2 separate regions of the Homo sapiens genome follow, and region 1 is linked to region 2. A link means that fine-mapping ties the variant in region 2 to the expression of a gene that starts in the linked region. Tissue or cell type: whole blood. Region 2 holds a variant in brackets; the other region holds the start of a gene. All regions are shown on one strand. Distances are from middle to middle.

The links. PIP is the estimated chance that this variant, and not a neighbour inherited with it, causes the effect. A credible set is the group of variants that fine-mapping cannot tell apart.
Region 1: it holds the start of CRYBG2, and the variant in region 2 is the best candidate, but not a certain one, in a credible set for the expression of CRYBG2 in whole blood (INTERVAL, PIP 0.61).

What each region holds. Positions count from the first base shown.
Region 1 is chr1:26,352,711-26,355,391 of GRCh38, forward strand. CRYBG2 (crystallin beta-gamma domain containing 2) reads right to left here and starts at 1,420. Exons shown (of 20, transcript NM_001039775.4): 1 at 1,326-1,420.
Region 2 is chr1:26,206,233-26,208,913 of GRCh38, forward strand. No RefSeq gene overlaps it. Among named protein-coding and RNA genes, the nearest start is that of CATSPER4, 17 kb to the left of the region's middle. The variant G/T (reference allele first, on the strand shown) is at 1,256.

The DNA of each region.
Region 1 (2,681 bases), 150 kb after region 2:
TAGTGGCAGATAGAAACCACCTCCCCCCAGCTAACCCTACTTCTCTTTCCCGTCCCCCTCTCCAAGGTAGCCTCCTCCACCCCCCTTCCCTCTCTCTGCAGCCCTTGTCCCCCAGCCCCTGACTTCTGGGGCATCCAAGCAGGTCTCAGAGCCAGCCTGGGTCCTACATCTCCCTCTTCCTTGGCACGGAAGCAGTCACATTGACCCCTGCTTGGAGGACCCCAGCATTCCTGATTCTGCCTCTGCTACTACAATGCTGCCCAATCCACCGCCATAGGAGCCTAGAAAACCCTGGAGCCCACACAGCAACCTCACTCAACCCTCCACTCTCTGCACAGGGCCAAAGAGGTTTCTTCCAGGCAGGATGGAGCAGTGGTTAGAGCACAGGCACTGGAGTTATAGAAACCTAAGTTCAGATTCTAGCCCCTTCACTTTCTAGTTGACTTTGAGCAAGTGACTTTCAGAGCCTCCTAGAATTAGGTGACAGGGGTTGGGATCAGTCCCTACTCATGGGATGGTTGGGAAGATTAAATAAAATTATGCTTAGAAAACAAATTGCAAATGACAGCCACCCCATCATCCTTAAGCACCCTTCAAAACCCCACCCCAGGCTCATTTCCTCTTCAGGGTCATCCCTGGGAGGTTCCATGTTCATCCCTCCTTGATGAGCTTTGGGGGACATATCCTTCCACCTCTGCGCCCCCCAGGCAGATTTAGGAGAGTCATTTCAACACAAATAAAACTAGGCTTGGGAAACTCGACACCCACTCCTTTGGCTTCCAGCTCAGAGCCAGGTGGGGTAATTATTGCTGTCACTGAGACGTAATTAATAAGCATCCCTGCTATTTTGGCACCCCCAGTCTCTGGAGTTCAAAGTATATTCCTGTAGCCACCTCCTCCTTCCTCATTTTCAGCTACCAAATCCTCTCAACAACTCAAGGCCCAGAGAGGTTAAGCAACTCGCCTCAGGACACCCAGCACCTAGGCTGGGTGCCAATTCCCAGGCTGAGTCTGTGGCCTCCTGAACAGAACTGGGGAGTGGTGTATGCTGTGAAGAAGGCAACCCCCCTTCCTGCCCATCCTCTCCCTGACAGACTTTCCCCTTTCTCAGATGGACAGTGGGGGTGAGAAGCAGTGGGTTCCAGGAGGTAGCCTGTGGGCAAAGGGAGGGAGAGGAAGGCAGGGTTGGAGCAGGGAGGGAAGGCAGAGTCGGCTCAGGGTCCTGAATGAATGGGCCTAGAGCTGGAGAGGCCCAGGGAATAGGCAAAGTCTCAAGACAGGGCAGCCAGGCCAGTCTCCCCTCCCATCTCCACACACAGACCGACCTCTACTCACAGTCTGCGTGGGGACCCAGGTGTCCAGCCAGCCTGGAGCTCCTGCTGCTGGGCCGTGCTCCCCTGATGCGATTGGGCTCTCAGCTGGGGTTCCTGAGGCGGGGCCGTCCGGCACCCTGTGATGGGGCGTGGCCCCTGGGGAGGCTCCCACCAGCCCTCAGATTCCTCAGGGCCGCAGAGGTGTGGAGCTGGTTGGGCCGGTTCTTCACCCTCCTCCCCTGGTGCTTGCCTGTGCCCCAGCAGGGTGACAGTGATGTAGTAGCGGGTCCTCCTGGAAGAGGGACGCGTGTGTAGGGTCTGGGCAGGCTCTGGCAAGGCAGTCCCTGGGGTGGCGGGCTTGCCCTTTGTCCCCTCTGCCCTGGGGAAGGATGCAGGGTGGAGCAGCAGGGGTGCGTCTTCCAGGTTGCTGGGTGGCTCAGGCCTCAGAGGGACCTCTGAAGCTGTGGGTGGAGACTGCTGACAGGTGCAGCCTGAGGATCCCTGCTCCCCATGTCCAGGAGCAGGCCCTGGGTATTGGGGGAGCCTGGTACGAGCAGACTCTCCTGAGGCCACTTCCAGGGCCAGGCTCTCAGGCCCCAGGGAGGCATGGCTGGCCAGGTCGAAGGCGCTGCCCACCGCTGGCCTCTGTAGGCGCCCCAGGGACTGAGCAGGACCCCCCGAGATTCCTTGTTGCTTCCAAATCCAGAAATCATCATGGTCCCCTACATGGATGTCCCATTCTGAGCAGCTCTGGCCTTGGGCCTGGGTGAAAACAGAGATAGACACTGAGAGAGGCAGGGGCATAGTGACAGCTCCCCCTGCCCTCCAGGCACCCCTGGTACCTGGTATCTTCCCTGTCACAAGGAAGCTGAACAGGGCTCTGACACCAAGGTAAGCTGCCCTAGGGAGAGGCTGCTAAGGCCACCAGAGCTGGACAAAGGGACAGAGCTCTGGGAAGGCCCTTCAGCATTTAACTCACCCCTTCCCATTCTACGTAAGAGGAAAGTGGGGCCCAAAGAAGACGGCGACATGACTGAGATCACACAGCAAGCCAGCGAGGGCTCCCAACGCTCAGGTGCCGCACTCCCTCCCAGGTGACAAGGCACCCAGGGCCTGGCCGGCCATGCCCCCCAAAGGCTGGAGATCTCAGCTTCCTTGCAGTCCTGAGGTGCTTCCCCGCCCTGGGGCTGAGGGCTGGGTGGGAAGGCCTGCCTCAAGTGCCCATGGCCTCTGCCCATTCCAAGCTAACAGAGAGACTGCGGCCACCTCTCTTGTACCCTCCCAGCTTGAGACAGAACACCTGGGAGGATGTACCTGGGATATAAGGGAGCCAGAGAAGAGGGTTCCCCTGAAATGGGACAACACCTG
Region 2 (2,681 bases):
TTGGGAGGCTGAGGGGGGCAGGTCATGAGGTCAAGAGATCAAGACCATCCTGGCCAACATGGAGAAACCCTGTCTCTACTAAAAAAATAAAAAATAAATTAGCTGGGCGTGGTGGCACGCGCCTGTAGTCCCAGCTACTCAGGAGGCTGAGGCAAGAGAATCACTTGAACCCGGGAGGTGGAGGTTTTAGTGAACTGAGATTGTGCCACTTTACTCCAGCCTGGCAACAGAGTGAGAATCTGTCTTTAAAAAGAAAGAAAGAAAGAAAGAAAGAAAGAAAAGAAAAAAATCAGCTGGGCGTGGTGGCATGCGCCTATAGTCCCAGCTACTCGGGAGGCTAAGGCAGGAGAATCACTTGAACCCAGGAGGTGGAGGTTGCAGTGAGCTGAGATTGTGCCACTGCACTCCAGCCTGGTGACAGAGTGAGGAAAAAAAAAATCAACTGGGTGTGGTGCAATGTGTGTGCAATGTGGTGCGCCTGTAGTCCCAGCTACTCGGGAGGCTGAGGCAGGAGAATTGTTTGAACCCAGAAGGCAGAGGTTGCAGTGAGCTGAGATCACGCCACTGCACTCCAGCCTGGTGACAGAGTGAGACTCCATCTCAAATAAATAAATAAATAATAAAAAGAAAAATGTTAGTCGAGTGTGGTGGTGCGCACTTGTAGTCCCAGCTACTCAGGAGGCTGAGGCAAGAGGATCACTTGAGCCCAGGAGTTTGAGGCTGCAGTGAGCCATGATTGCACCACGGCACTACAGCCTGGGCAACTGAGACTCTGTCTCTAAAAAAAAAGTGAGGGTGTGGATGGTGCCAGAAAAGAAGGGTTGGTGCATCTTCAGAATTAGGCGATGGGAAGGACAAAGAATGAGCCTGCCACCTGGGCTGGGTCACTTCCAGTTTTTTTTCTTTTCTTTTCTTTTCCTTTTTTTTTTTTTTTTTGAGTTTTGCTCTTGTTGCCCAGGCTGGAGTGCAATGGCATGATCTTGGCTCATTGCAACCTGTGCCTCCCGGGTTCAAGCGATTCTCCTATCTCAGCCTTCCAAGTAGCTGGGATTACAGGTGTGTGCCACCACGCCTGGCTAATTTTGTGTGTTTTGTAAAGACGAGGTTTCACCATGTTGGTCAGGCTGGTCTCGAACTCCTGACCTCAGGTGATCCTCCCATCTCAGCCTCCCAAAATCCTGGGATTACAGGCGTGAGCCACCATGCCTGGCCAGCCTCCAATTTTCTGAGTTAGCCTTTTGAAAACTGCCAAGAG[G/T]CTGGACACGGTGGCTCACGGCTATAATCCAAGCACTTCGAGAGGCTGAGGCGGGTGGATCATTTGAGGCCAGGAGTTCGAGACCAGCCTGGCCAACATGGCAAAAACCCATCTCTACTAAAAACACAAAAATTAGCAGGGCACGGTGGCATGCGCCTGTTGTCCCAGCTACTTGGGAGGCCGAGGCAGGAGAATCACTTGAACCCAGGATGCAGAGGTTGCAGTGAGCCAACATGACGCCACTGCACTCCAGCCTCGGTGACAGAGTGAGGCTGTCTCAAAAAAAAAAAAAAGAAAGAAAGAAAGAAAGAAAGAAAGAAAACTGCCAAGAATGCAAAAACAGCACATCAGGTGATGGGCCTATTTCTGCCCATTACCCAGGGGAAAGAAGAAGGTTTCCAAGGAATCCAGCCCAACATAATTGATTTGGGCCTTTCTAGAGAGAGCAGCTGGCTCAACCATGAGAATAAAGCTGTGTTTTTGTAAGGCAGTGCAGTGTGGTAGGGAAGGCATTGGGTTCTGGTGTCTGATGGACTTTGTTTCAAATGCAGTGGCACCACTTCCTGGCTGTGTGACCTTGGACAGATGTCTTCACCTGTCTGATCCTCAGTTTCTTCATTTGATAAATGGAAATAATAGTCCTTTTCTACAGGTTGGTTGTAAGGATTTAATGTGCCTGTGCATTGGAGCAGCACCTTACCTGGGCAGGGTGACACTTGAACAATATCAAAATGATCCTTGACTGCTATGACACTCAATGAAACACTCGGCTTGCAGTTAGGGGTCATATTGTTCAAAAAATTCATATCTTTAGGCCGGGCACAGTGGCTCATCCCTGTAATCCCAGCACTTTGGGAGGCTGAGACAAGCAGATCACTTGAGGTCAGGAGTTTGAGACCAGCCTGGGCAACATGGTAAAACCCTGTCTCTACTAAAAATACAAAAATTAGCCAGGCATGGTGGCTCATGTCTGTAGTCCCAGCTGCTCAGGAGTCTGAGGCAAGAAAATGGCTTGAACCCGGGAAGCTGAGGTTGCAGTGAGCTGAGATTACACCATTGCACTCCAGCCTGGGTGACAGAGCGAGATTCTGTCTCAAAAAAGAAAAAAATCGTATCTTTAAATACTAGAATCATATTCAATGCAGTAGGAAACTAATATCAAACAAGGCATCAAGAAATCAAACACCAATTGAGATAACAGATTTCTGTCTTTTACTGACTTGCACTGTCTAGAGTAGCCATTGAGTGGAATGAGACATAGTTACCTGCACAAGTAAAATTCTCTCTCCCTGGTATACATCTGTTGAAATCTATTGGCACAGAGCTGGCACATAAATGTGAGCTGGTAAGATTTACATATGTATGTAAATCAACACCCACTACATTATATATAATATATATTTATATATGTATATATAATATATAT